Homo sapiens: one gene and its partners. The protein of the gene in region 2 purifies or fractionates together with the protein of the main gene of each other region. This does not show direct contact. Each region holds a gene or a part of one and is shown on either strand. Other genes may lie near its edges. The genes, in order: PIN4, HSDL2 and XRCC4.

Region 1 (3,656 bases), on a different chromosome or scaffold from region 2:
CAGGAGGTCACCATGTTTTTCTTTCTTTTTTTTTAAGAGGCAGGGCCTCTGTTGCCCAGGCTGAAGTCTGGAGTGCAGGGGGCATGGTCATAGCTTACTGCAGCCTCGAACTCCAAGGCTCAAGTGATCCTCCCACCTTGGCCTCCTAAAATGCTGGGATGATAGGCCTGAGCCACTGTGCCCAGATGAGGTCACTGTATTGATGCTGAACTTAGTGCTGACACCCGATTGGCATAGGACACTACAGCCCAGAACTCCTGGGCTCAAGTGATCCTCCTGCCTCAGCCTCCCAAGTAGCTAAGACTACAGGCGCACACCACTGGGCCCAGCCATAGTTTCATCTTATATCTATTTGAACTTCTCTGTATACACTGGCATATCTGCTCCGTGGGGAAAATCTCATGGAGGCATAACCTACTGAGGTGCTCAGAAACTCTTCTCAAGTGGGAAAGTCAGGTATCTAGGTAAAGTTCCCATTATATAAGTGGGTATAATATCAAATGCAGCTGAGGGAGAGAAGGCAGTGTGTTAAAATAATCTGTTAAGAATCACATAGCTGTGTTGGCAAAGTTTTATTTTTGAAGCAGTATAGTATTTATATTAGTAATCTTTATACTTTTTTATATGTCATAAATATGGCATTTTAAATTTTAAAAATTTAGATGCACAGAACATTGGCCCTGGAAAGGACAGTCTTAATGTAACCCATACACTGAAGATGAGGGAATGACATTTTTATGCTGACATCCCTCCCTTTAACCAGCACTCGGTTAGTCTAGTACAAAACAACTCATGGAACAACTGAGTGCTTTTTTCCTCCAATAAACATTTATTTAAAAAGAAAGGAGTTAACACTGAAAGGCATAACGTGCCACGTACTATGTTAAGACAGTGGAGCTAATACCACCTGTCCTGGAAGATCAGAGTTGACTAACATGTAAAACAAATGTTGTCTAGGAACTTATTTTATGATTCTCACACACTAATCTATTTGATGCCCAATATTTTCAGTTGTGTGAATAGTGTGAGTTGATATCTGCTTCCCCTGAAGATGGTTTCTGAATTAATTTATGGGACAGACTGAGAGTCAGATATAGTTCTGGGAGGAAAGAGAATACAGGTTAAAGGGAGTCTGCTTGACTTCTCTTTGAGAAAGACTGACTGAATACCTACTACAGTTGACATTCACTTAGCCCCACCCTCTCTTACACCTACAAACCCATACTTAGAGCTTTCACAGAATACAAGGAGCATCCAATATCTTTTCTTTTTAAAAATTTTTGTATTTCCTTGCAGCTCCAGCTCAAAAGAATATGTAATACCTTTTAAAGAAACAAAATGTATAAAACTTATTCAGTCTTTCATATGATTTTATTTTCTTCCTTCGACCATAATAATATGATATCCAAATTTTGTCTTAACCGGTGGGTCTGTAAACACAGGCTTATCCATCCCACTTACAGGCAAGGCAAATGCTGCTTCTTGAAATGGTCCCACCATGGACCCTCTGGTCATCCAACCCAAGTCACCCTGAAAAACCCAAAAGATAAGTGATATCAAGTGGCCCAGAAGAGGGAACAGTTCTACTGTAGCTTGAGAGAATTTCCCAACATTTTGCTAAGGTTACGAGGTATATTCCTAAGAGCAATACAGGAATAGGCTCAATAAGGACAAATAGGTAGAAGAAGTCTAACTAGACTGAACACATAAGTACTCTCAACACTGCTGGACTTTGAAGTTAGCCGTGCAAGTTTGGTCATGCATAGGTTTTGACATAGATGACCCTTATTCTACTATTTACAAGTTGGACATTTCTGCTTTTGAGATCTTTAAACCAAAATATCGCTACAACCAATGGTTGAACAAAGGAATGATCCCTACTTCTGTGTTTCTTCTGTGGAGGATGGAGAATTTTTATCTTATTTTATTATTTGTCATTTTTACTTTGCTTTCTTACCTTGAGAGAAAATTATAAATAATAAGAGCAACATACCCCTTGCCTGGCTTTATCTTCACTATACTGTGCGGCCACTTCATTGAATCTCATCCCAGACTTTAACTTTTCCATGGCTTCCATGATTTTGCCATGTTTTTCACATAGAATGTGTCTGACCTGCAAGGAAAAAGTACATTCATGTAATACTTGGAGACCCAAATGACTCCTTAAAGTACAGTGGTTACATTTGGATTACCCCCACCAGTTAAAAAAAAAACACATTAGTTCATAGCAAGTAAAAATCCTGGAAGTTTGCCCAGGACAACAACCACAATCCCATTCCCCATATTAAGACAATGTCTCAGAGTCCTGATTTAGATGGAAAATAGGCACCTGGCTGTGGGAAGCTCCGCCTTTTTTTTTTTTTTGAGAAGGAGTCTTGCTCTGTCACCTAGGCTGAAGTGCAGTGGTGTGATCTCGGCTCACTGCAACCTCTGCCTCCCGGGTTCAAGCAATTCTCCTGTCTCAGCCTCCTGAATAGCTGGGTTTACAGCTATGTGCCATCACACCTGGCTAATTTTTGTATTTTTAGTAGAGATGGGGTTTCTCCATGTTGGCCAGGCTGGTCTTGAACTCCTGACCTCGTGATCCACCCGCCTTGGCCTCCCAAAGTGCTGGGATTACAGGCGTGAGCCGCCGCTCACGGCCGGGAAGCTCCCATCTTTTACCATATACCTTCATGCTAACAGGAGGAGGAAACACGATACGGGTTGAGAGCTGTGGTCCTAGAATCAAATCCCAACTCTGCTGTATGAACTTAGGCTTTATTTATTTATTTATTTAGAGACGGAGTCTCACTCTGTCTCCCAGGCTGGAGTGCAGTGGTGTGCTCTCAGCTCACTGCAACCTCTGCCTCCCGGGTTCAAGCAATTCTCTTGCCTTAGCCTCCCGAGTAGCTGGGATTACAGGCACCCATTACCACGCCCAGCTAATTTTTGTATTTTTAGTAGAGATGGTGTTTCACCACGTTGGCCAGGCCGGTCTTGAACCCCTGACCTCAAGTGATCTGCCCGCCTCGGCCTCCCAAAGTGCTAGGATTACAGGCGTCAGCCACCATGCCTGGCTGAACTTACGCATGTTTTTAAACCTCCAAGTGTTTCTCCATTTGTACATCAAGATGCAATGATAACGGGACCTATGTGTTCTCATAGGATTGTGAAGATTGAGATAATGCAGCTACCATTGACCAACGGCTAGCTATTATTTCATCAGAGTGAGGATAAGAAAAAACCTGCTAGAAAGTATTTCTATCTTTTTTTTTGAGACAGAGTCTCCGTCTGTTGCCCAGGCTGGAGTGCAGTGGCCCGATCTTGGCTCACTGCAACCTCCACCCACGGGTTCAAGCAATTCTCCTGCCTCAGCCTCCCAAGTAGCTGGGACTATAGGTGCGCACCACCACGCCCAGCTAACTTTTTGTATTTTTAGTAGAGATGGGTTTCACTGTGTTGGCCAGGCTGGTCTCAAATTCCTGGCCTAAAGTGATCTGCCCACCTCAGCTCCCAAAGTGCTGGGATTACAGGTGTCAGCACACCGTGCCTGGCCAGGAAGTATTTCTTACTAAAAGAGACCCAATGTATAAGCCTCCCCACAATTCCACACTTTGAAAAGGTATCATAGGTTGAATATTAAGAACGCCCAACCCTACTGAAGTATTCAAATT
Region 2 (3,656 bases):
GAGTTAAACCGAGATCTTTCTTTCTGTCTTTCTTTTTTTTGAGATGGAATCTTGCTCTGTATGCCTTTGAGTTAAACCGAGATCTTTCTTTCTGTCTTTCTTTTTTTGAGATGGAATCTTGCTCTGTTGCCCAGGCTTGAGTGCAGTGGTGCGATCTCGTTTCACTGCAACCTCTGCCTCCCAGGTTTAAGTGGTTCTCCTGCCTTAGCCTCACAAGTAGCTGGGATTACAGGCGCACACCACCATGCCGGCTAATTTTTGTAATTTTAGTAGAGATGGAGTTTCACCATGTTGGCCAGGCTGGTCTCAAACTCCTGACCTCAAGTAATCCTCCTGACTCGGCATCCCAACATGCTGGGATTACAGGTGTGAGCCACCGTGCCTGGGCAGATCTTTTTATAATTAGTTTTCTTCTGATATTTTTATGGTCTTATATTTTTGTATTTTTCAAATATATTTGTATTGTCTATATTTTTTATAGTCAGATTTTTTTATCCCCCTGAGATTTCTTTCAGGAAGTGAGTTAGGAAGCCCACTTGATTTTTCTTCAGATGGCTGCTCATTTGTCCTAGCAGCATTGACCTAAGAGTTAATCTTTTCTCTTCTGCTCGAAATTCTACCTCTGTTGTATATTAAATTCTTGCACATATAGCGCTCTGTTTCTGGACTTTCTGCTCTGCTACTTTAGTCTCTATTCATGTACCAGTACCAGACTGTTTACTTAATTAATTAATTGAGACAGGGCCTCGCTCTGTCACCCAGGCTGGGGTGCATTGGCACCATCATAGTTCACTGCAGCCTTGATCTCCTGGGGTTAAGCAGTCCTCCCAGCTCATCTTCCCAATTAGGTGGGACTATAGACATGCGCCATAATGCCTGGCTATTTTTAAAAAATTTTTTTGTAGAGGAGTCTCACTTTGTTGCCCAGGCTGGTCTCAAACTCCTGGGCTCAAGTGATCCTCCTGCCTCAGCCCCCGAAGTGCTAGGATTACAGATGTGAGCCACTCTACCCAGCCCAAACTATTTTAATTGCTCTAGTTTTACAAAATGTTTTAATATGTGGGAAAGCTAGTTCCCACCACATTTGGATTATTTTTCAGAATTTTCCTGGTTATACTTGGGTATTTATTTTTCCAAATGAAGTTTAGAATAATTTGTATAGTTTTTTGGAAACAGTTGTTCTTCCTTTTACTAAAAATTTCAGTACTTTTACCTGATTTTGGGGTACCAGAGAATTTTAGTAAATTAAACTGTAAGTTAGCTCTTCATCAGCAAGTTTTAGCCATCTATCAATAATACTAAGAAATTTGGAGCCTTCTTTGAAGTGCTCTTGCCTTCTATATTCTGGTACTAATGCTTTGGAGCTGGAGGACTTCTTACTGGCACAGATCAGGGTTATGTTTGCTTTTTTTTCTGCCAATGCCAGAGACTCTGAGTGAGGAAGAAAATGCCCTTTCTCCTACTGGGAATCAATCAAGCTATACTCAAAGCAAAGAGATATGGCTTTTTTTTACAGCAATAGTTGGGACATTTTCTTGTAAATACTTACATTAAAAATCACTTTAGCCTGTGGTCCCAGCTACTTGGGAAGCTGAGGTGAATCACTTGAGCCCAGGAGGTTGACGCTGCCATGAGCTGTTGAGGCTGTTGTGGTAAACTGAGGACCAGAGAGACCGATATTGGGAAGACAGGAGGATGTTTATTTAAGGTACTCACCGGCTCAGTGGATTCACATCCAAAAAGCTGAGCCTTGAACAAAAACAGAGTTTAGCTTATATAGGCCAGCATACAAGATCAAAACAAAGGCAGTAAATTTTACAGTGACAAATCACGTAATCCATAGCATAACTGCTGACCTGGCACTAACCTGTGGCCTTGCATAGCTAGTGGCCTAGCAGCTGCATCGAAAGAAAAACAGGAACTTTGCAAATCTTACTAAATACAAGCATTGGCAAACATAGTCATAACTAATAGTACAAGAGAGACAGTAAAGGAAATTGTTTTTCGTCTTTTAACCTTGCTCAGGGGTGTCTGGAGTTCATTTCTGCAGGCTAGGTCACCACGACCTGTCTACAGCCTTGCTTGCAGTAGTGAAAAACTTGTGCAAGACTGTCAAAAGAAAAACACAACAACAACAACAACAGAACCACTTTAATATTTTATGTATACTACCTTTTGTATGAAAAAAGGAAGGGATAGTTTTTCACATACATAGAGTGTTTTATATATATATATGTTTGCTTATGTTTGAAAAAAGTACAAAAATGATAGGCCAGAAATTAATGAAGCTGGTCACCTATAGGTAAGAGATCAGACTTCTTTTTTAAAAGTTTTTAAGTTTTATTTATTTATTTATTTTTTTGAGATGGAGTCTTGCTCTGTCGCCCAGGATGGAGTGCAGTGGCGCGATCTAGGCTCACTGCAACCTCTGCCTCTTGGGTTCAAGCGATTCTCCTGCCTCAGCGTCCAGAGTAGCTGGAATTACAGGCATGCACCACCACACCTGGCTAATTTTTTTTTTTTTTGACAGAATCTTGCACTGTCGCCCAGGCTGGAGTGCAGTGGCGCGATCTCAGCTCACTGCAGCCTCCACTTCCAGGGTTCAAGCAATTCTGCTTCAGCCTCCCGAGTAGCTGAGATTACAGGCACCTGCCACCACGCCTGGCCGATTTTTTTTTTTTTGTATTTTTAGTAGAGATGGAGTTTCACCATGTTGGTCAGGCTGGTCTCAAACTCCTGACCTTGTGATCCGCCCACCTCAGCCTCCCAAAGTGCTCGGATTACAGGCGTAAGCCACTGTGCCTGGCCAATTTTTGTATTTTTTAGTAGAGACGGGGTTTCACCATGTTGGCCAGGCTGGTCTTGAGCTGACTTCAGGTGATCTGCCCACCTCGGCCTCCCAAAGAGCTGGGATTACAGGTGTTAGGCACCATGCCCGGCCAATTTTTTTAATTTAATTTTTTTTTTTTAAATAGTAACATGGTCTTGCTATGTTGCCTAGGCTGGTCTCAAACTTGGGCCCAAGCAATCCACCCACCTCAGCCTCCCAAAGTGTTGTGATTACAGGCATGAACCACCATGCCTAGGCCTCAACTAATTAAAAAAATATTTTTTTGGTAAAGGTGGGGTCTCACTATGTTGCCCAGGCTGGTTTGTAATAATATATTTTAATTCTCTTTTTTAACCCCACAAGTATTATTTTATTATTATTGTACTCTTTCTAAACAAGATTTCTGTACTTATTTACCAATATCTTTGATTTTCCTATTTTCTTGAATTTCAGACCTTCCATCTGGAAACACTTTTCTTCTGACTGAAGTGTAACCTTTAGTAAATAAGGTGTAAGACAGGAAGAAAAAGTATTTGGATTATAATGAAATAAATAATGCTGTCGTTATTTGCCGATGATATTATCCTGCACAGAAAACCAAAATAATGTATAACTGAATTATTATAATTAATAAAAGTTTAAGAAAATTGCTATATATAAAAGTCAACAAATAAAAATAATTTTGAGCTTGGCATGGTGGCTCATGCCTGTAATCCCAGCATTTTGAGAGGCCAAGGTGGGAGAATCGCTTGAGCCCAGGAGTTCAAGACCACCCTGGGCAGCACAGTAAGACTCTGTCTCTACCAAAAAAAAATAAAAATTAACC
Region 3 (3,656 bases), on a different chromosome or scaffold from region 2:
GAAAATAAGAGGATATCTAGGATGATAACTGACAGATATCTAAAATGTTGTCTAAGATATTAGCACTTGAATTTGAGCTCCACAGGCTAGCATTTTTGGAATGAATGAATGATTACATATTTTCAGACAGGTATCTTTTCATTTTAATGAAATTTAGAATACTTTTAACTAGATGCTTTTTAAATAGATGTTCTCTGTTTTCTTTTGTGTTTTCTTCAAGTTTTTCTATGGCCGCATTAAAGATGGCATCTACAAATTTATTTCCTATTTCTCTGTGAAATAACTGTTCTTCCTAGGTATTGGTGAGTTAAAGTTAGATAGTTACTTTTTAACATAATGCAAACACAAAATATGAAATTATTCCTTAAATAGGAAGCATTTATCTTCTTCTTTTTTTTTTTTTAGAAGAGCTACTAGGGCATTTGAAAGATCAATAGGTTTGATAGTGATGATCATATTAAATGTGTCCACTTCCAATAGAGAAAATGTGAAAGTGTTTTAGAAGCTGTTAATATATGAATATAAGCTATTTTTATTCTTACCTCCTTCCAAAGGTTGTGTGACGTATGAGAATCATATTTTATTATCAAAACTTGTTATCAAAAATTGATCATATAAAAATATTGGTACCTTGCAAGACTCCCTTTTTCATTAACTGTCATGGGTCTTCCAGACACTTGATAGCATAGAGACCAAAGGTATGAAAATGTGTGTTCCATTTTAGGGATTCTTTAATCATGATTTCCTTATATTCTGTAATATTTTATACTAATGTTGTTTTTCAAAATTATGGATGGAAATAATTTATCCAATGTTTCATGTCTCTGCTTCACCTCAAAATAAAACATGCAGAGAGATATGAGTATTAATCCCAGCTTCACTAGTTACTTACTTCATCACCCTAGACCATTACTTGATCTCTGTGAGCCTCAGTTTTCTCTTTTGCAAAATGAAAATAATATCTGTTTTTCAGTTTTATAAGGAATTAAAATAGATAAGTGTAATGCATAAGTATGAAATTATACAACCATATGAGACTTTTATCATTACTGTGATAGCCTAAATTAACACAGGAAACCATCCAACCACACACACATTCCAACAAATAACGAGATTGAATCTTGTAATTTTAAAAACAAACAAGTATGCAGACCCATTGCCACTTTTGAGTGTAAGAAAGGGAAAACCTCAGACACCATGTTTGAAGAGGTATTTCAAAACCAAAGTAATTGATGAGAATTAAAGCTTACTTGTAGATTCATGGAATATCTGAACTAGATATACTTCTAGATGACAGTGAGTATAATGTTTGAGTGAGGTAGAATGTTGAGGCTTCAGACCTCTTAGGGAATTGGAGTTGAGCTCTCAGCATAAAGAAAGGAACCTGGAAAATATATGCTGTTAATAAAATAATCTTTTAAAAAAACTACTACTCTCTGTCCAGAGGATGCAGCATAAAAACAGAACAATCCCTAAGGACTATGAGTGAATAAAAGTCTCAAGAAAAATCAGAACCCTAAACCTGTGTTATGTGTGGATGGGAGGTTTAAAATGGAACACTTTGCCTCAAATGTAAAAATCGAGGTGAGAAATTAACTTTCAAAACTAGTCCCAAACTGATAAAACTTGTAATGACCCCCAGAAAGGCAACCTTCATTTAAGACCACTTCTTCCCAGAGCACTTGCCACTTTGGCTAGAGGTGAGCTGTACTCAAATGTTACAAAGCATGAAAGGAAAACAAGTAAAACAAGAATTTTTCCACAGATAGAAGAAACATAATTTATACCCCAGGAGCCACACATAAATACAGAAATGAAAGAGATCTTAAAATACGTTTATTTAAATATTTAAAAGAAGGGTAGGATAAGAACAGGATATAATGACAAAGGAACAAAGATAATATCTAGAATTGAAAATATAATTATTGAAACAAAAATCTCAATGATAGTAAAACATCAGCTTTAAAAATACCTAGATAAGAGAATTGGAAGCGGTCTCTAGTATAGTATGTGTTGCAGAGGAGATGCTCGTACATTTTAGTTTCCTTCCTATTATTTCCTTATCATCTCCTTTCATCCATATTTTCTGTTGTTGGCACATGATATGAGAATAGTGAGCTCCACTTTTGCTTTTGTTTTACTCTGCCCATATGAGTGAGAAACACAGTATAGGCTATTGAATCTTTGATGCAAGGAAGAAAGATGTTATAAAATACTGAACTTATTATTCATTGTAGGAAATTATCTGGCTTTGACCTAAGAGCAGTTACACAAAGTGGGAGTTTCTGTAATAATTTACAATGCGTTTCATCTGAAGACAGAGAAAGAATGTCAAGGGTTTAATGTATTTTACGAGATGTGAGTCTAAATTAATGCATTTCTCAAAAATTGCTAGTTCAGTAAAAAGGAATAATTTGATTTAAAAATGTGTAGTATAGGGATTGATTTTACTTGTTTGAATTTCTGTTACATGTGATAAATTAGTACTAACAGATAAACTAATATTTTCTCATGTGTAGTCATTTACTTTTCATTTTAAAACTTTTGTTAATATTTCCCATAGTTTCTGAATCAGAGATTTCCCAAGAAGCTGATGACATGGCAATGGAAAAAGGGAAATATGTTGGTGAACTGAGAAAAGCATTGTTGTCAGGAGCAGGACCAGCTGATGTATACACGTTTAATTTTTCTAAAGAGTCTTGTTATTTCTTCTTTGAGAAAAACCTGAAAGATGTCTCAGTAAGTAAAACTTTCCAAAATGTTACATAGTAAAATGTCAGAGCATTTATTGAGGAATTATATTTAAATTTAAGTGACTACTATATTATTCCCAGAACACCTCAGAAGCAAAAGCTTGAAAAGTACTTGGTTTCCAAATTAGAAGAATACTTCAAAGCTAAAGTCATTAAATATATTAATGAATCATGAAAAATAAATATTGGAAAATGTGTTTAGTTTTTAATGCTTGAAAAATTTTAAAGTATTACAGAGTTAATTATACAAAAGAATAATCTTGAAAAAGGTGAGATCAGAAGTTTTAGGCCATCGTGACAGGTCTTATTGAAAAAAGTTTTGTGAAATATTGATTTTAAGAAATAAAATCAATCAAAATATATCTTTGAATATAGAATAATTATGACTTATTTTCTACTTTACTAGAGTATATTTGAAATTGAAAAATGCATAGTAAGTATTAAGGATACTTTATATTGTCAGATTTAAAAATATTAAAATAGAAATAACTTGAAGCCTAAGCTTTGCAAACAAGAGTATCTGCTACTTATTCTGCTCAGTTCCTGCACCAATTCAGATCAAGGCAGGTGGTTTATTTATTAAAGTCTGGCACTAATTATTTGTATATTTTACCTAAGTTTAATAGATACTGAATTTGTTTTTTTAACCAGTGGTTTTCAGTCATATATGAGATCTATCATTTCTGAAGGAGAGGGAAGGAAATGTTTGCTACATTAAGTTAACAGAAATGTATTGAGAATTTGTTTTAGTGCTCAACTGAGTTTAGGAAATTCTTTTAAATCAACCTTTTAAATTTGGAATAATTAAAGAGATTTCATTAATTAGATAAACATTTGTAGAAACAAATGGAGTCATTATAAATTTATATTATCGTGTAGGGAATAATGCAGAGAAACTACCCT

The links.
Region 1: the proteins of HSDL2 (region 2) and PIN4 fractionate together in Homo sapiens (co-fractionation; one large-scale study listed by BioGRID). This does not show direct contact.
Region 3: the proteins of HSDL2 (region 2) and XRCC4 purify together in Homo sapiens (affinity purification with mass spectrometry, with the first as the bait; one large-scale study listed by BioGRID). This does not show direct contact.

What each region holds. Positions count from the first base shown.
Region 1 is NC_000023.11:72,195,242-72,198,897, reverse strand, and holds the end of PIN4 (peptidyl-prolyl cis-trans isomerase NIMA-interacting 4), read right to left. Parts: intron 2,114-3,656; coding exon 1,994-2,113; intron 1,531-1,993; coding exon 1,372-1,530; 3' UTR 558-1,371; downstream 1-557.
Region 2 is NC_000009.12:112,382,985-112,386,640, forward strand, and holds part of HSDL2 (hydroxysteroid dehydrogenase-like protein 2), read left to right. Parts: intron 1-3,656. UniProt on the Homo sapiens protein: Has apparently no steroid dehydrogenase activity. Controls bile acid (BA) and lipid metabolism in response to nutritional cues.
Region 3 is NC_000005.10:83,108,465-83,112,120, forward strand, and holds part of XRCC4 (DNA repair protein XRCC4), read left to right. Parts: intron 1-2,563; coding exon 2,564-2,739; intron 2,740-3,656.